Linked DNA regions of Homo sapiens. The protein of the gene in region 1 interacts with the protein of each later gene in a pairwise test. Each region holds a gene or a part of one and is shown in the gene's direction. Other genes may lie near its edges.

Evidence for each region. The genes of interacting proteins can lie anywhere in the genome.
Region 2: the proteins of GLE1 (region 1) and KLHL20 interact in binary tests that used the Homo sapiens proteins (3 or more experiments, as listed by UniProt).
Region 3: the proteins of GLE1 (region 1) and MAOB interact in binary tests that used the Homo sapiens proteins (3 or more experiments, as listed by UniProt).

The regions. Positions count from the first base shown.
Region 1 is NC_000009.12:128,528,701-128,535,736, forward strand, and holds part of GLE1 (mRNA export factor GLE1), read left to right. Parts: exon of another isoform or gene 1-300; intron 301-3,964; coding exon of another isoform or gene 3,965-3,991; intron 3,992-4,812; coding exon 4,813-4,955; intron 4,956-5,060; coding exon 5,061-5,251; intron 5,252-7,036. UniProt on the Homo sapiens protein: Required for the export of mRNAs containing poly(A) tails from the nucleus into the cytoplasm. May be involved in the terminal step of the mRNA transport through the nuclear pore complex (NPC).
Region 2 is NC_000001.11:173,780,958-173,787,205, forward strand, and holds the end of KLHL20 (kelch-like protein 20), read left to right. Parts: intron 1-1,166; coding exon 1,167-1,273; intron 1,274-4,205; coding exon 4,206-4,290; 3' UTR 4,291-5,735; downstream 5,736-6,248. UniProt on the Homo sapiens protein: Substrate-specific adapter of a BCR (BTB-CUL3-RBX1) E3 ubiquitin-protein ligase complex involved in interferon response and anterograde Golgi to endosome transport.
Region 3 is NC_000023.11:43,837,438-43,844,473, reverse strand, and holds part of MAOB (amine oxidase [flavin-containing] B), read left to right. Parts: intron 1-557; exon of another isoform or gene 558-582; intron 583-709; coding exon 710-804; intron 805-5,468; coding exon 5,469-5,606; intron 5,607-7,036.

The DNA.
Region 1 (7,036 bases):
AACCTAGGCTGTGACTTGCAGGCTTTGCTTCTGTCCTACAACATTAGCTTTTCCAAATTACTCCAAGCTCGCCTTGTTCATCCTCCAGGACTCCTTTTCTCTCCAGAGACTGAGGTTTAGAAAGTGAGAACCAGACAAGGAAGAAACTTCTTTAGAACCAGAGGTTCATTTGTATGGAGCTGTAGATGTGGAAGCCTCCAGATTATAGACTGAGCTGCCAGGTGGCTGGGGAGTGTGTGTGCAACTGGAACACTCCTCTGACGCATCGTGGGTTCCGTTCCCCGACTCACTTCTCATTGCCTGGAAAGCATAGGAAAATTTCAGTTCCTGCCCTTGATAGGCAGTCCAGCAAAACTTACATATGACTTTGCTGCCTGAAATTCTTTCTGGAACAGGGCAAGGTATAAATAAATAAATAACATATCACTTTTTGGAATTTAAAGTGCTGTGTCCTTTGATAGCAACAGCAAAGCAAGAGAGGTTGACTGGACAGCCACTCCACACCTCGATGGCCGTTCCCAGTTCCCCTCTGTTGACTGCAGACAGGGTCAGTACCTCCTTCATCAGGAAAATGGAGACATCCAGTGTGAGCTCCTCAGAGCCCCTCCACCACTGCACAGTGACATTTACCTCTTAGTCTCCTGTGTCACTGGATGAGGCGTCCTTGCTGCTGGGCTTACCCTTCCACCTCTGCCCTTGTTCCCTTTCCTTCCTGTCTCCTGTCAGACTGCCTCATCGTTTATTGCCTTTCCTGTTTTCTGTGATTACTCCTTTTTATAGGCTCCTCTCTCTCAGCCTGTAAATATATGTGAGCCCCTCACATCCTAACATGAGTCTCCCTTGATCCTATGTCTTCTAAGTGTTTGCTGATCTTCCTGAGGTTTCTGTTCGGCACTGTTGCTGCTTTCTCTGTGCAACTCTACTCCTTTGGCCTCCATGGTGCCATTACTTTCCAGGTTCTTCTCCTCCCTCCCTCACTACCCTTTCCTCTCTCTCTCTCCCTCTCTCCCTCTCTCTCTCTCCCCTTTGTGGGTTTCTTAGTCTTCTACCCCACTCTAATTGTAGGTGATTCCTAGGGATCTACTCTTTTTTTTTTTTGAGAGTCTCGCTCTTTCGCCCAGGCTGGAGTGCAGTGGCACTATATCGGCTCAGTGCAAGCTCCACCTCCCGGGTTCACGCCATTCTCCTGCCTCAGCCTCCCGAGTAGCTGGGACTGCAGGCGCCTGCCACCACGCCCGGCTAATTTTTTGTATTTTTAGTAGAGACCAGGTTTCAACGTGTTAGCCAGGATTTCAACGTGTTAGCCAGGATGGTCTCGATCTTCTGACCTCATGATCTGCCCACCTCGGCCTCCCAAAGTGCTGGGATTACAGGCATGAGCCACTGTGCCCGGCTGGGATCTACTCTTATCCTGCAGTTCTTTTCGTTCTCTCTACTTACAGGGCTTCAAACATTACCTGAATGCTGATGACTCCCAAACCTACCTCTGGTTTATTCCTTTCTTCTGAGCTTCAGATTCTCCAGCTTCAGCTACCTGAGGGACATCTCTGCCTATATGTCTCTTAGCTGCCTCAAGTTTAATGTGTTCAAATCCAAACCCATCATCTTCCTTAGCCCTCTTTGTCTGCTGTTTTCTCTTGAGTAATCAGTAGCACCATTATCTACTCAGTAATCTTAGCTGGAAACCTGGGAGTCATCTTTATGACTGCTGCCTCTCTTTCACTCACCACATCGAATTAGTCTATATCTTTGCCTTTTTTAATTTTTCTACACATTTCCTGACTCTCCCTTTGTCTCCATCAAGACTTTAAGTCCTTTAAGATCTTGTAGTCCAGCCAGACACAGAACATGCTCTAGTTAGTGCTCAGTAAGCGTTTAATGAATAGGAGGGAAGGATCACCTAATTCTTCTCTTTTTTAAAAAGGTGGGCCGGGCGCGGTGGTTCACGCCTGTAATCCCAGCACTTTGGGAGGCCGAGCCTGGCGGGTCACCAGGTCAGGAGATCGAGACCATCCTGGCTAACACGGTGAAACCCTGTCTCTACTAAAAATACAAAAAATTAGCTGGGCGTGGTGGCAGGCACCTGTAGTCCTAGCTACTCCGGAGGCTGAGGCAGGAAAATGGCATGAACCCGGGAGGCGGAGCTTGCAGTGCGCCGAGATAGCACCACTGCACTCCGTCCTGGGTGAAAGAGCGAGATTCCGTCTCAAAAAAAAAAAAAAGGTGGGCCGGGCACAGTGGCTCACGCCTGTAATCCTGTAATCCCAGCACTTTGGGAGGCTGAGGCGGGTGGATCACAAGGTCAGGAGTTCGAGATCAGCCTGACCAATATGGAGAAACCCTGTGTCTACTAAAAATACAAAATTAGCTGGGCATGGTGGTGCATGCCTGTAATCCCAGCTACTCAGGAGGCTGAGGCAGGAGGATCTCTTGAACCCAGGAGGCAGAAGTTGCGGTGATCTGAGATCACGCCATTGCACTCCAGTCTGGGCAAAAAGAGCAAAACTCCATCTCAAAAAAAAAAAAAAAAAAAAAGGTGGATGTCAGCTGGGCCCAGTGGCTCACACTTGTAGTCCCAGCACTTTAGGCGGCTGAGGTGGGTGAATCATAGGAGGTCAGGAGTTCAAGACCAGCCTGGCCAATGTGGTGAAACCCCATCTCTACTAAAATACAAATATTAGCCAGATGTGGTGGCAGGCGCCTGTAATCCCAGCTACTCGGGAGGCTGAGGCAGGAAAATCACTTCAACCCAGGAGCGGAGGTTGCAGTAAGCCAAGATCGTGCCATTGTACTCCAGCCTGGGTGACAGAGTGAGACTTCATCTCAAAAAAAAAAAAAAAAGTGGATGTCGCCGGGTGTGGTGGCTCACACCTGTAATCCCAGCATTTTGAGAGGATGAGGCAGACAGATCACTTGAGGTCAGGAGTTTGAGATCAGGCTGGCCAACATGGTGAAACCCCGTGTCTACTAAAAATACAAAAATTAGCCGGGCGTGGTGGCACACACCTGTAGTCCCAGCTACTTGGGAGGCTGAGGTGGAAGAATCACTTGAACCCGGAAGGCAGAGGTTGCAGTGAGGTGACATCGAACCACTGCACTCTAGCCTGGGTGACAGAGTGAGACTCCAGCTCAAAAAAAAAAAAAAAAAAAAAGATGGATGTCCATGAGTGGTTAGAATTAGAAGAAATCTTAAATAAGGACATGATGTTGCTGTGGCATGGGGAGGCCACGTCAGTCTAGGGTTGGAAGCTAACTAACTTTCCTCCTACCTAGAGAGGTATGGAGAGAGGCTAGATGCTAGATGGGGCATTCAGCCAGTGGGGTCCACATGGTTGGCTTTTTTTTTTTTTGATAAGAGAACTGAATGACAGGATATTTCTGAAACTTTTGTGACATTTCTTGAAGTGATTAGGAACTTGACAGGGTATTTCTCAACTGGAGATGCTGTATTAATTAAAACATTGACTTCAGGACTTCAGGTAATGGAAAGTAATTCAGATCTGCTTTGCTTTTTTTTTTTTTTTTTTTTTTTTTTTAGGGAGGAGATGGAGTCTTGCTTTGTCACCCAGGCTGGAGTGCAGTGGCACAATCTCGGCTCACTGTAACCTGCGCTTCCTGGGTTCAAACGATTCTCCTGCCTCAGCCTCCCCGAGTAGCTGGGATTACAGGCACCCGCCACCACACCTGGCTAATTTTTGCATTTTTAGTAGAGACGAGGTATCACCATGTTGGTCAGGCTGGTCTCGAACTCCTGACCACAAGTGATCTGCCTGCCTTGGCCTCCCAAAGTGCTGGCCCAGATCTGCTTAAGCAAAAAAAAAAAAGCATTTATTGGAAAGATAAAGAAATATCCTACAGAACCCAGTGGCAGGAATGAGGTGAGGTCTCAGGAGCTAGAAACTTTAGTTCTTTTTTCCTCTCTCATCTCATCTGTCCTCTCTACATCTCCATTCTTATTTTATAGATTGCCGTTCTTTGGTCTTCATGGCAGGTACGCAGCCCCCACTGCTTGTGAGTGTATGTGACACAGGGCCAGCTACCTCAAGGAAGTGACTCTTAGTTGACTGACTGGCTCAGCTTGACTGCCTCTAATCTAACTGTAGCTAGTGTGGGGGTGGAGCACACAAAATCTTTGGTACAAATATAGCTGTTACGAATCCACTTCTGTGTCTCTGAGGACGGAAGAAGGCAAGTCCTGAGAAGGGGGCATATCATCATGAGCTGGTTAGATCCTTTAGAAGGTTTTTCCTAGAGATGTGACTAACTCCTCTAGAGATACCAACCACAGTCCATGGGGTCTGTAACAAAATGTAACACCTCTTTCTATACTGTTTATCCCTTCATTTTATGTGTACAGTAAGGGATACTGTTTATCCCTTCATTTCTGTAGGGCAGCACAGCTGGGTTTTTGTAGATGCTTTGTAATTACAATGATGAAACAGGCTGGGCATGGTGGCTCACGCCTGTAATCCCAGCACTTTGGGAGGCCAAAGCGGGCGGATCACTTGAGGTCAGCAGTTAGAGACCAGCCTGGCCAACATGGTGAAATCCCATCTCTACAAAAAAAAAAAAATACAAAACTTAGCCCAGTGTGGTGGCGGGCGTCTGTGATCCCAGCTACTCAGGAGGCTGAGGCAGAGAATTGCTTCAACTCGGGAGACGGAGGTTGCAGTGAGCCAAGATTGTGCCACTGCACTCCAGCCTGGGCAGTAGAGTGATACTGTCTCAAAAAAAAAAAAAAAAAAAAAAAAAGGAAAAGAAAAAGAGATTGATCTGTGGTTATATCTTTTAATTTCTCTCTATCATGCTCAGGCTCAAAACTGAAGGAGATCTTTGACAAGATCCACAGCCTGCTCTCTGGAAAACCTGTTCAATCTGGTGGGCGCTCTGTGTCTGTCACACTTAACCCACAGGGGCTGGACTTTGTTCAATACAAACTGGCAGAGAAATTTGTGGTGAGAAACCTTGTTGCTAGAGGTATGGGAAGCAGAGGCTGGTGTACAAGATTTCAGCCTTTTTCTGGTATTAAGTTAAAATTGTACCCACCTCTATGTTCTCAGAAACAAGGCGAGGAGGAAGTGGCCTCTCACCATGAAGCAGCATTCCCCATTGCAGTTGTGGCATCCGGGATCTGGGAGCTCCACCCCAGAGTGGGGGACCTCATTCTTGCTCATCTACATAAGAAGTGTCCTTACTCTGTTCCTTTCTATCCCACTTTCAAGGAGGGAATGGCTTTGGAAGACTATCAGAGGTAAAGTTGTTTTTCTCCCTACTCACTATCCCTAGAGTGATTAATGAAATATAAATAGAATTGGAATTTGTTTTTCCCTCCTCACAGCTCCTATTACGTACCTTGAATGTTCTATCAGAAATATAATGTCTTTCGGCCGGGTGCAGTGGCTCATGCCTGTAATCCCAACATTTTGGGAGGCCAAGTTGGGTGGATTGCCTGAGCTCAGGAGTTTGAGACCAGCCTGGGCAACATGGAGAAACGCCATCTCTACTAAAAATACCAAAAATTAGCCAGGTGTAATGGTGCACACCTGTAGTCCCAGCTACTCAGGAGGCTGAGGCACGAGAATTGCTTGAACCCGGAAGGCGGAGGTCGCAGTGAGCCAAGATCGCACCAGTATACTCCAGCCTGGGTGACACAGCAAGAGTGTGTCTCAAAAAAGAAAGAAAAAATATATATACATAGTCTTTTATGTAAACTGGAGAGCCTTTGGGATTTGTGAACTTAGGTGCCAGTAGTCAATGTAGTTTAGTGGAAAGGATACTGGGGTCTTGGAATTTTATCCCTGCTTTGTCATTTAATACCTTTGCAAAAATGGACAAATCATTTAGTCTTTTTGAGCATCTTTTCCTGATTTTTAAATGAGGGTAATGACATCTATTACCTCCTGTGAATTTACCTCATGGCTTACATGAAGCTCAGATTTGATGATGGATATGAGTGCTTGGTAAACAAAGTATTCTACAGATGTAATAATATGTAATAATATATATACATATTTTTTATTTTTTTTATTTTTTTTTGAGACAGCGTCTCGCTTTGTCACCCAGGCTGGAGTGCAGTGGCGTGATCTCAGCTCACTGCAACCTCTGCCTCCTGGGTTCAAGTGATTATCCTGCCTCAGCCTCCCGAGTAGCTGGGACTACAGGCGCCCACCACCACGCCCAGCTAATTTTTATACTTTTAATAGAGATGGGGTTTCACCATGTTGGCCAGGATGGTCTCGATCTCTTGACCTTGTGATCTGCCCGCCTTGGCCTCCCAAAGTGCTGGGATTACAGGCGTGAGCCACCACGCCCGGCCTGTAATAATATATTAATAGTAATGCTGAGTGTAATAATATATTGTTATTTTTTAGCCATAAAAAGTAATCTCTGGGCCAGGTGCAGTGCCTCATGCCTGTAATTACTTTAACAATTTGGGAGGTTGAAGCAGAAGGATCGCTTGAGCCCAGGAGTTCAAGACCAGCCTGGGTAACATAGTGAGACCCTGTCTCTACAAAATTAGCCAGGTGTTGGCTGGGCGCGGTGGCTCACGCCTGTAATCCCAGCACTTTGGGAAGCCAAGGCCGCCAAAGCGGGCGGATCACCTGAGGCCAAGAGTTTGAGACCAGCCTGGCCAATATGGGGAAAACCCGTTTCTACTAAAAATACAAAAAATTAGCTGGGCATGGTGGCAGGCACCTGTAATCCCAGCCACTCAGGAGGTTGAGGCAGGAAAATCGCTTGTACCCAGGAGGTGGAGGTTGCACTGAGCCGAGATCATGCCATTGCACTCCAGCCTGGGCAACAAGAGTGAAACTCTGTCTCAAAAAAAAAAAAAAAAGGCCAGGCGCGGTGGCTCACATTTGTAATCCCAGCACTTTGTGAGGCTGAGGCGGGCAGATCACCTGAGGTCAATAGTTCAAGACCAGCCTGGCCAACATGGTGAAACCCTGTCTCTACTAAAAATACAAAAAATTAGCCAGGTGTGGTGGCAGGTGCCTTAATCACAGCTACTCGGGAGGCAGAGGCAGAAGAATCG
Region 2 (6,248 bases), on another chromosome or scaffold:
CTGCAGCCTGAGTGACAGAGCGAGACCCTGTGAGTGAGAGAGAGAGAGGGAAAGAGGGAGAGGGAGAGAGAGAGAGGAGGGAGGAGGGAGGGAGGTGGGGGAGGGGAGGGGAGAAGAAAACACCAGCCAGGGAACATGTGCAAAAGTGTGGAGGTGTGAAAAATGTATGTTATCTTCAGGGACTAGCAGTTAATCCAGTTTTACTGCAGCAATAGGATTCATTAGTTAGGAGTAAAGGGAAACTATAAGAGGTGAGGCTTAAATAGTGGGCTAAGATAGATTTCTGGAGGGCCTGAGTAACATAATAAGGACTTTAAAACTTACCCTTAAATAGTAGGGAGGCTTAGAAAGTTGTTTTGGTTTTAGGAGATTTTTTTGAGAGGGTCCCACTCTGCTGCCCAGGCTGGAGTGCAGTGTACACAATCTCAGCTCACTGCAACCTCGACCTTTCAGGCTCAAGCAGTCCTCCTGCCTCAGCCTTCCAAGTAGCCGGGACTACAGGTATGCCCCACCACACCCAGCTAATTTTTGTATTTTTTGTAAAGACAGGGTCTCACTGTGTTGCCCAGGCCTGTCTCGAACTCCTGGGCTCAAGCGATCCACCGACCTCAGCCTCCCAAAGTGAGAAAGTTTTTAGAGGAAAGTGACAATATGATTAGATTTATATTTTTCTGTTTTACTTTATTTTTGTAGAGATAGGGGTCTCACTGTGTTGCCCAAGCTGGTCTTGAACTCCAGGCTTCAAGTGATGCTCCCACCTGGGCCTTCCCAAAGTGCTGGGATTACAGGCATGAGGTACCATGCCTGGCCTAGATTTGTATTTTTAAAAGAGAATTTTACTAGCAATTAGAAAGATTAGAGCAGGCAAATACCAGAGGAAGTGAGAGCAGTTTGGAGGTTGTTTGCTCACTTCTAGTGAACAGTTTTTCTAAAATTTAAGAAATACATGTTTTGGATTCTGTGTGAATATTCTAATTGAATATATAATTTTATAGTTCCCATAATTTGATAGACTTTTGTTGTTACATTTTCCCTGTGTTTCAGTAAACCAGAATGTAAGGCCATAAAGAATTATCTTTTGTAAATAGATTTATCTAGAAACCAGTCTATAATTTCCTTACGATTGTCTAGTTTCTTCAGCAGCTTACTGTATTTTGGTTTTGTAGGTTGGCCTGGCAGTGGTCAATGGACAGCTCATGGCAGTAGGAGGTTTTGATGGCACAACATACTTGAAGACCATAGAAGTTTTTGATCCTGATGCCAATACATGGAGGTAACTTTTAAGCTGTGTAGCAAATCACCTCACTACTGATTTGGAAATCATGGGCTTGAAATAGCCTATGACCATCAGAACTGGGATGGTCAGTACATTGGAGTACTTTGAAGAGGGCTGAAGTTACACATATTTATGGCTCATTTTGACTTGATTGCTCTAAAGTGGCTGATATATTACAAAATTCTCCTTTTCAGTAACTGTCCAGTTTTATAATTAGAGATGGGTAAAATAGGGAAAAAAAATCTTCCTAGTCCCATCATGTTCAGCTGAGGAAACAAAAGCACCGAGAAATAAAATGACCTGCCTAAGTGAGTTAGTGACAGAGTTAGAATTAGAACCTAGGTCTTTGGCTCCAAATCTGTCCATGCCATTTTTTGGTGTTCTTGTGGGAAACCTATGCCTAGGAGAAACAAATTGCAATTACTTTTGAAAAATTAATATTTGAAAAATAATATTTCATTTTTAAAGCCATTTTAACTTTTAGGGAGGAGGCTACATCTTATTTAAGAGAGCTTAACTTAAACTTCATTTCTAGGTTTAATTTTACTTTGCTTTTAAATCCTCAATTGTCTAATAAAGCTTTCTTAAGTAGTTAAGTAGTTTTTATAATTTCACATAAATTAGGTGACTTTTGCATTTATTTTAAATATTCAAGAACCTTTACAAACTTAGCAAAATTCTCTTAAACCTTTAAACTTAAAATAATTAAGTCTAAATCTTTACTCAATCATATTTTATACTTGAATCACAAGAGTAATCTTATAGATGCCCTAAAAAGCCAAATTCTCTTAAACACTACAGGAACTTAAAATGCAAAACACATAGTTTATTCTCAAACTTTAAAAATAACAATACTATGGGTTTGATGTATGGCATATCTGTACTTAATTCTAAATACTAGTCTTCTAAGAAAACAGTTTTGCCTTCCAAGCAATTTGGGGTTTCCTTCTCAATAAAATGGGCTTACTTGCCTAAGCAAGTTTAGGGTTACCATCTCAGTGGTTAAGGTTGCACATCAACCAGAAATATCAGGCTGGACATGTGAGCTGAGGCAGCAGACATTCTGGGAAATTTTTCTTATGACCATGAAGGATAAGCTGAGCTCTGTTTTATTGTTACTATTCTAAAAGAGGCAGTCTTGTAGTCCTTTCTTACTGTATTCTAATAGTCTATCTCTAGGAAAGCCACAACTCTCACAGAGATTTAAGTGACATGCTTTGGATCCTACATATGTCTCACAGCTCCATATGACTCAGTGGTCACAAAACTAAAGTCAGGCTAATAACAGCGTGTACGTTTTGCTCCTACATCACATTTTTACAGTCCTGTTCATTAAGTAAAGATTTATTGATGGCCAGGCACGGTGGCTCATGCCTGTAATCTCAGCACTTTGGGAGACCAAGGTGGGCGGATCACCTGAGGTCAGGAGTTCGAGACCAGCCTGGCCAACATGATGAAACCTCGTCTCTACTAAAAATACAAAAACTAGCCAGGCATTGGGGTGGGCACCTGTAATCCCAGCTACTTGGGAGGCTGAGGCAGGAGAATCACTTGAACCTGGGGTCAGAGGTTGCAGTGAGCAGAGATTGGGCCATTGCACTGCAGCCTGGGTGACAGAGCAAGACTCCGTCTCAAAAAAAAAAAAAGATTTACTAAGTGCTCCGAGCCCTGGGGATACAAAACTGAACAACAACAACAAAAATTCCTGCCAAGCGCACGCCTGTAATCCCAGCTACTAGGGAGGCTGAGGCATGAGAATCTCTTGAACCCAGAAGGTGGAGGTTGCAGTGAGCCGAGATCACACCACTGCACTCTAGCCTGAGTGGAAGAGCAAGACTCCGTCTCAAAACAAAACAAAACAACAAAAAAGTTCCTTGCCCTGCTGGAGCTAACCAATTGTATTGAGGGAGACAAACAGTACCATACCAGTAGATGGAAGTGCTGTGGCAAATATCAAAGCAGGGGAGGGGGCTAGGGAGTACAGGGAGGGGAATCTGTTTTTAAAGGTGTTCAGGGAAGGCCTCATTGGAAAGGTAGCATTTTAGCAAAACCTAAATACGGTAAAGGATAGGTAATGGCAGCTTTGGGCCTCTCACTGGCAGGATATTTTCTTCCATATACAGCTTTCTATTTTTACTAGGAATTTTGATTAAGCATAATTTCTGAAGACAGCCAAATTTACTGTCACTTAATCACTATAATCTTATCTGAGGACTTGTTTCTTAGTAACTGTCACTAAATAGAATTAGTAATAGATGACAAAGTAATAGTCATGAAATTATTGAGGATCATCTGTTGAAAGATTAATAACTAAATATTTGCAGTTACATATCCAAGACTTAAAAACCAACTCTACCTCATAGCTGATAAGGGTCTAGTATTCTTCTCCATGGAAAGTCCTTAATTTTGAAGATGATCTTGTCACAAACTAGATGCTGACTTTACTCAAATCTGGTTTTGTTCTATAAAGGACTTGAAGAGGCTTACAGAGTACATATAAGACAAAGGGATAAAAATAAATAATTGAAGAATTTTAGGCAAAGGGAAAACATAGGTGGGACAATAATATAGCCAGGGGCAAAATTTTGAAAATGTAGAATATATAATTCTGTGTAACCGTTAGAAGTCAGTGAGGTATACAGTTGTAAAGTTCTGATGCCAAACGTGAATATGATGCTCTCTTATTCTTCACACAGCCTCCTATGAGTGAGAGCATGTCAGTCAATCTCTGAAACAGTCCTGCTACTCAACAGTGCTCAATTGCAGCTTCTAATCTTTAGAATGAAGACAATATTAGTGTGAAGCTGAAAATATTAGTTGTAATATAAAACATAGAAACGTGTTAATAACATCTTAGTCGTAGTTAATAACATCTTAGTTGTAACATATTTTCCAGTTAGAAAATATGATTATGTTTCTTTCTTTGCAGGTTATATGGCGGGATGAATTACCGTCGGCTAGGGGGTGGCGTAGGAGTTATTAAAATGACACATTGTGAATCCCATATTTGGTGAACACAGAGAAGACAGTCTTGTATATATTCCTCTGTATTCTGGGGAGCTTTGACCTTGGAGCTTTGTACAGCTTGAGAAAACATTAGAACAAATTTTATTATTTGCCGGTGCCTCAACAAATGGAAATACAATCCAATGAAAGTACTTCACCTGCAAGATGCACAATAATTTTCAACTCTGTGCAGAAGAATATTTATTTTTGGTTTTAATTTATCATGGTTTTTTGTTGTTTTCGTTTTGAACTTATCCTTCCTCCCACAAAAAAAGAAAAGAAGAAAAAATTCCAAGCAGCAAAACTTACTTTGTTTGTAAGGTATTCATTTAGGTTTGAAAATACTATTTAATAAGGGCAGAAGGGCTATATATGATTTGGCTATTATTTCTAGACACTCCATCCACATGATTCCACTAACAAGGATTACCAGGAATAAAGGTAGGTATGCAAAATGTATTAGCTACCCATTATTCTCGCACTAACCACCAGAAGACTTGAAAATCTTAAAAAAAAAAAACAAAAAAACAAGAAAAGGCAACATCTCATTTTAAATAGTACAATTCAGAAGGGATACTAAATCAATAAAAACCAGGACTCAGACACTACAGTTTTCATCAGTGTAATTTTATGTCTTGTTTCTTTCTATATGAACTTGTTTATTTAGTCTTTTTTTCATAATATTCTCATAGAGTTTCTGCTAGATCTAGAGCTCTGCTCAGTGCCTCTTATAAAAACAATATATAAGTCTCATATGCTGTCTTGAGAATCCAAGAGAATCACATGCAGCTCTGCAACAGTTTTTGCTCAAAAATGTTACTGACTAAAGCAACTGTCCTTCCTGTTTCCTTATTGCTACCAAGGACCAGCAGGGAGAAATGTCTTCTCCCAGCAGTGAATTCTGTTATGCAATTTATTCTTGATGCTCAGGCCTGGTTAAGCTGAGGCTTACCTTTAATAACAGCCTCCAAGGGAATGAATTATTCAGTTAATGTAATAGCACACATTAAAGAGTGTAAAATCAATTGAGGCATTTTATTAATATCTTGGTTCTTTTATACAAACAATGTATCATTATCTTCATTCTATAAGGTCATTGTTACTACTTCTCTCAAATTGCACTTTCTGGTAAAAAGTTAAAAATTTTTAAGGAAAAAATAATTTCAATGGTTAAAGTTTTTTTTCCTCATTGTATTCATAGACAAATTTTTTTCAATATATTTTGCAAGAAAAATCTTTGAATAAGACTAACTGCATTTAAAAGGAATAACCTCCTTCTCCCTTTCCCCAACTACAAAAATGTTTGGCAACTTTGTGTTTACATTTAAAGATCATTTGCACCTTTTTCAAGGAAAAAAAGTATTGAGTAAACAATTGTTTACATATATCATTTATGCTTTTTTCTAGCATGTATAACTTTTTTAAATAAAGGTAGTATTTACCATTAAAAAAATTTTAGCTAATGCTTTTTATCCTTGTACTTTTGTTATTTAATTTGGAATTTCTGTTTCTATATAATTTATTTTATCTGTATGTAAAGTTACAAGTGCTTTCAACTTGAATAAAAGGATTGCCAGCTAGAATTAATAGGAATTTTCATTATATATTTTTATATGTTATATTACCTAACCTATAAACTTATTTTCTAGGTAGGACTTAGACTCATACAATTTTGAGCTGGAAGGACTCTTTAACAATCATCTAGTCCAAACCCACTTATTACACTGATCCAAGTCTGAAAACCACAAAGTCTGCCTAAGAATAAATAGTCAATTAATGATAGAACCAACATTAGAAATCAGCTTCCTCAATTCCCAGTCCATTCCTCTTTCTATGCCACACTGCCACTATAGGTTTACCTGAAACTAAATATAATAAAAGACCTTAAGTATTTTAATTAAGTCTGGTATTAACATGTAAAAAGTATAAAAACTTTTATGAGATCCTCACTGTAGTACATCATTAA
Region 3 (7,036 bases), on another chromosome or scaffold:
AATTAACCATCACAATGGGTAAAGTTTATTGCATGTACATTTACCTCAGTAAAGCTGTGGGTTTTTTTAAGAGCTAAATTCATGGTGGTGAGAATGTAATAGGCATTCACTAAGTATTTTTGACTAAATTAATAATTAAATTAGTCATGAATGGAATTATTTCATTCTTCAGTGATGGGTCATATCAGGAAATCCAGATGCATAAGGGGTCGAATTTTACCTCCTTGATTTTGAAACTTTACGTCAACTTCTAAAAGTCCAACTTTAATAGTAAATCCCAGTTCCTGGCACACACTTTGAAGGCCCACTGTCCCTCAGTTTACCAGTTTTTCATATTTACCCTGAGAATGAAGTCAGTGACTGGACTTAGTCCTGTGTCTGCAACTCATATATTTCTCTTGAGCATGGCCTTGTGTTCTCATTTATGTTATCAGACATGCAATTTAGTCATTAAAATAGACATTTTGATATAGTGGCAGAGGATGTGTTTAAGATTTGAGAAATTTACTAAAAAATGAAATCCCTTTTGTCGTTTCCAGAAACATCAGACTCTGGGCCTCTATTGACAAACCGTATCCACTTGTAAGTTGAATGTAACAATAGGCGGTGCACGTGAGCCAGCATGGACTTTTCTCATTGGCTGTTAGCATGAGGAGCTTGTCTGGCATCCTTGTATTTGATCCTGATGTCTTACTGTCTTTTCTCCCAGGTATGGCAGCAGCCAAACTTCTGCATGACTCTGGACTGAATGTGGTTGTTCTGGAAGCCCGGGACCGTGTGGGAGGCAGGACTTACACTCTTAGGGTAAGGCATTAAGAATCCGGAGGACAAATGTGGGACTGAAGCTGAGTTTGGGGTTTCATTTTTGTCTTTTTCCCCAAAAGTCTTCAATTTCATTTGACTCTAAGAGGGTGAAAATAACTCTGAAACATTCTTCACAGCCTCTCTCCCAGTTTGCCTTCCTTTCAATTCTTCTGTTCCTTTTTGTCTTTTCATCTCATGATATTTGGCCTCATAGAGTTAGGATTGAGTAAGAGGGAAATGGACAGATATGTGTGTGCCTCTGTGTGTGTGTGTGTGTGTGTGTGTGTGTGTGTGTGTGTGTGTGTGTGTGTGAGACAGAGAGAGAAATAGGAAGAAAAATAACATAATTATATGTACTTTCCACTCCTAACTTCGATGCTTCCTTCACACCAACACAATCATTCTAATCATACAAACTAAACTTTTTTGGAGAGACTTTCTCCCATTTTTAAATTTATTTTTTAAATTTTATTTTAACAAATCATAATTGTATTACATTTATGGAGTATAATGTGATGTTTTCACCATATGTATACAATGTGGAGTGATTAAATCAAGCTAAATTAACATATTCAGCACCTCACTTTCTTGACATTTTTTGTGGTGATACATTTGAAATTTACTCTGTTATTTTGAAATGCACAATACATTATTATTACTACAGTTACTGTGCAATGGATTTCAAAACTTATTCTTCCTGTCTAGCTAAAATTTTGTACCCTTCCTGTCTAGCTAAAATTTTGTACTCCTCATTCCCTCAGTTCTCACCCCCCAGCCCCTGATAATATTCATTTTGCTCTCTACTTCTATGAATTCAACGTGTTTTAGATTCCACTTATAAGTCTTTCTGTGCCTGGCTTATTTCACTTAGCATAATGTCCTCCAAATTCATCTATGTTGTCCCAAATGACATTTCTTTATTTTTAAAGGCTGAATAGTATTTCATTGTGTGTATATACCAAGTCTTCCTCATCCATTTATCCACTGATGGACACTTAGGGTGATTTCATATCATGGCTACTGTAGATAATGCTGCAATGAACATGGGTGTGCAGATATCTCTTTGACATATTGACTTCAATTCTTTTGGATATATTCCCAAAAATGGGATTGCTGAATTATGCGGTAGTTCTATTTTTAGTTTTCCATTTTTAGTTTTCTGAGGAACCTCCATACTGTTTTCTGTAATAGCTGTACTGATTTACATTCCCACCAATAGTGTACAAGGGTTCCCTTTTCTCTTCATCCTTGACAACACTGATTATTTTTCCTCTTTTTGATAAAAGCCATTTTAACAGGTGTGAGGTGATATCTCATTTTGGTTTTAATTTGGATTTCCCTAATGATTAGTGGTGCTGAACTTTTTCCATGAACCTGTTGGCCATTTGCATGTCTTCTTTTGAGAAGTGTCTGTTCAGTTCCTTTGCCCATTCTTTAAAAATCTGGTTATTTGTCTCTTGCTATTGAGTTGTTTGAGTTTCTTATATAATTTGGATATTAACCTCTTATCAGATGTACGGCTTGCAAATATGTAAAGAAAACTATCATTTTATTAATTGTTCTTTTGCTGTGCAGGAGCTTTGTAGTTTGATGCAATTCCATTTGTCTGTTTTTGCTTTTTTTCCTGATCTTTCAGGGCCATATCCAAAAAATCATTTCCCTGACTAGTGTCATGGAGCTTTCCCCTTGTTTTCTTCAAGTAATTTTGCCGTTTCAGGTCTCGTGTTTAAGTCTTTAATCTATTTAGAGTTGATTATTTGTATATGGTGTTTGCATATGGTATAAGATAAGGGACTACTTTTATTCTTCTGCATGTGGATAGTCCGTTTTTCCTGCACCATTTATTGAATAGACTGTCCTTTCCCCATTGTGTGTTCTTGGAATCTTCATCAAAACTCAATTGATTGTAAATGTGTGGGTTTATTTTTGAGCTTTCTATCCTGTTCTATTGGTTGGTGAGTCTGTTTTTATGTCAGTACCATACTGTTTTGATTAAAATTGCTTCATAATATATTTTGAAGTTGGGTAGTATAACGCCTTCACCTTTGTTCTTTTTGTACAAGATTGTTTTGGCTAGTTGTAGTCTTCTGTAGTTCCATATGAATTTAAGGATTGTTTTTTCTGTTTCTGTGAAAAATAACATTGGCATTTTGATGGGGATTGCACTGAATCTATGGATCACTTTGGGTAGTATGGACATTTTACATTATTAATTCTCCCAATCCATGAACATGGATGTGTTTTTATTTATTCACATAAACTAAACTTTTACCTGCCTAATTTTCCTTCTTGTTTTTGCTTCAGCTTTTATTTTTTTAAAAGAATTATTTACCAATTTATAAATACCCTTATTTTAATTGCTGGTTAATTGTTTCAATTCTGACACTGTTGCCTAAAATTAATGATTTTCTATTTAAACACAGAGTCAAGCAAAGCAAGTTTCTCTGCAAGGAAATGCCCTACTTCCATACATTCAAGATCTGAATAATAGATATAGAAGCTACAGAGTATTTTCATTTCCAGAGAGATAAGACATATAAAATTCTGACTCACAGCTCTTCTTTTGGAAGGATTCATCAATGATATATATCTGACATTTTGTACTCATTCTTTTTTTTAAATTATACTTTAAGTTCTGGGATACATGTGCAGGGGTGGGATCTGCTGAGCTAGATCACTTGGCTCCCTGGCTTCAGCCCCCTTTCCAGGGGAGTGAACGGTTCTGTCCCACTGGTGTTCCAGGCACCACTTGGATATGAAAAAAAAAAAAAAAAAACTCCTGCAGCTAGCTCGGTGTCTGCCCAAATGGCCGCCCAGTTTTGTGCTTGAAACCCAGGGCCCTGGTGGCATAGGACCGAGGGAATCTCCTGGTCTGCGGGTTGTGAAGACCATGAGAAAAGCAAAGTATCTGGGCCAGAATGCACTGTTCCTCATGGCACAGTCCCTCACAGCTTCCCTTGGCTAGGGAAGGGAGTTCCCTAACCCCTTGCACTTCCCAGGTAAGGCGACACCCCACCCTGCTTAGGCTCATCCTCTATGGGCTGCACTCACAGTCTAACCAGTCCCAGTGAGATGAACTGGGTACCTCAGTTGGAAACGCAGAAATCACCTGCCTTCTGTGTTGATCTCACTGGGAACTGCAGACTGGAGCTGTTCCTATTCGACCATCTTGCCAGCCCTCTGTACTCATTCTTTACTTTGAGTCATCTCCTTTATAATTGAATTTGTCCTCAGCAAATATCTACTGAGTACCTACTATGAATCAGGCACAGTAATCCCCCCAAAATGGCCTTGCTCCACAGACTTTACAGTCTCTCAGGGGGACAATGACTGTTGTAATTGCCTAATTATAGCTTATCAAGGAAAATGCTACAGTGAGGGTGGGTGACAGCTTGGAGTGGTGCCATAGGAGGCATAAGAGGGTACCTTACCAGTCTTGAGAGCCAGAGACTCAGAGAAGCCTGAAAGCCTTATCTGTTATTGACTGTGACATACACCGCCTGACCTAGTTATTTGTGATTTCACACAAGCCTTCAAACTTGATCTAACCCTTGTTGTCTACTGGCCATTGTTTTTGCCATTATGTGTTCCTCAAATATCTCTTTTTACCTTTGTCGTATGGCAAAATCTTCACATACTTCCAGGATCTCATCCCTTCCTACTCCAATCAAAAGCTACTTGCCTTTCTTCTGTGTTAATACCACTTACCTGTTCCACACAAGGACAATTATTATATGTTGCTTTACAAGGTTTTGCCTGTGTACATCTTATCTCTCCCAGTTCTTGAAATCTTCATATTCCTTGAAAAATACAGCATATAAGAGTGCCTTTTACGTAAAGAAGCTGGTTTAGTACAATTAGGTGCTGAATTTTTAAAAACATCCTTCTTTCATTTATTTGAGAAAATTTATTGGACAACTGCTATAGGAGTTTGGAATACTTTAGTGAGTAAAACAAAGATGCCTTGTGAAAATTGCATTTTTGAAGGGTAAGTGAGTGGAAAGCTAGACAAAAAATACGCAAATAAACAAAAACAGAAGAGAAGGACCATTTCTAGTGTTTCTAACTGGTAGGAACCTGGTTTTTCTTAGACATACTCAGAAATAGGAAACTTTTCTACTAATTTTTTGTTCAAAGTTCGCCCCTCAGTCATTGGAAATGAAACCAATTCAAAACTACGTAAATATACTATTAAACATAAAAGCAATTTCAAAGTCCAAATTATGACCAAATATTCCCTAGTGCTATTTTCAAATGTCTGGATTAACAAATCACATAAGAAGTGATCGTTTTCTTTCTTGCTTTTTCTCTAGCATTAGGCTCCTCAACATTCACCTGAAGTACTGAGTAAAGAGATTCGTCAATAATTCACAGCTCACAAATTCAAAGCACTAAAAACCAAGCCATGTTATGGTATATTGTAAATGATGAGGTTTAGAAGCTCTTGCCTATTCAGAGTTCAATCAATTTTGCTTTAAAGATTGATTTAATAACTAAGTCATGTGAATGAAGTAGAGTTGATAACAAAATCTAGTTTTTCGTGGATATACCCTTAAGCTGTATCTATAACTTGTGAAATGTCGATTTGCTTATTTCAGGACTGTCTTTTGTTATTTTATACATTTTTTACAAATTTTTTTTAATTTTTTCCTATGGGAAAACAGAACCAAAAGGTTAAATATGTGGACCTTGGAGGATCCTATGTTGGACCAACCCAGAATCGTATCTTGAGATTAGCCAAGGAGCTAGGATTGGAGACCTACAAAGTGAATGAGGTTGAGCGTCTGATCCACCATGTAAAGGTAAGATCAGGCCAGACTTTGAAGGATTTGAAAACTTCTCTATGATGTTTCCTTACACAAATTCCAGATCATTCTCTCAGAGAATCTTCTATATCTCTGGATGATGCAAATGTATTTTATAATGGTATTTCAGCCACTCTGAGATTCATTCACTGTTATCAAAGGTGAATTAGGTGGGAATTCTACCTATTTAGGAAGGTTATTGATGAAGTGGTATCTTCCATGTGGTAAAATGTTTAACAAAACCCATAAAGAAAAAACATTTGTGCTTTATTTATTAAATATCTATTTAAATACCGGGAAGTCTTTTATGTTATATAAAAACCTGTGCAAAGTTTTTAAAATGCTGCCCTAGACTGCACATTGTAAAGAGTATTTGCAATATGCCTAATGGAATATTCTTACATTTTATCATTGTGGCCTATATATCAGCTAAAGTTATTCTTCTTTGGAGATTGACATCAAAGTGGTTCAAGTCCCAGATCCCGTCTTTTGCAAGGAAGCTTCATTGTTCTCCCCAAGATTTCTGTGAATTTACTGAGTTTCTCATTCCTGTGATCATTTGTGGCTCATAGTTCTGGCTTCCATGATACCTATGTTCATTCACATCTCACGGCCTGTGACTCTTTTCTTCTCTTTGCTTATGCCAACCTGGGTTCACACTCACCTCTTTGTCCTGATTTTTCTCAGACCGCCACAAGCATATGTGAAAAGCAAACGTCACTGAAGTTTGCTTGGGTTTGGTGGGCGGGGGAAGGCTCTTAAATTTGCAGAAATACAAACAGATTAGAACTGAATGTTGGACATTCATTCTAATAACCTCTTAGATCAAAGCATCCCCTGAGGATTTCTCACTGGTCACATTTCTCTGCAGATTCCAGTCTCCCACCATGCTGCTGGTCCTCAGACTCTCTTCACATCTCCCTGCTCCTCTGTTTTTCCAGCATCCTCATCTTGGTCCACAAAGTCACTCATGTTCTCTGACAATCAGACAGTCACCTAATCTGGGCCCCATCCAGGAGTCCCATGGAAGAACTGGCGGAGGTTTTCAATTTCAGTCTTTCCTCTCTCATCTTCACTTGCTCCTGTGGGTGGAAGTAAGCAGCACAGGAACTTATTCCTCACTGGTAGAAAACATCCCCTTAGAAGACAGAAGAAACTAGCAACGGTCAATTTTGATTTATATAACAATTTTGACATCCTCATATTATTTGTGAGTGATAATATCGAAACAAATAACTGACCATAAATCATGAAACATTTAATAAAATGGGAACTAAGCAGTTACTTAATTTGGTATAATGTGGGTAAAAGTTTTCCTTAATTTATAAATAAATGTTTTGGTTGACCTTCAAATTTTATTTTATATTGGCCGGGCACAGTGGCTCACGCCTGTAATCCCTGCACTTTGGGAGGCTGAGGCGGGCGGA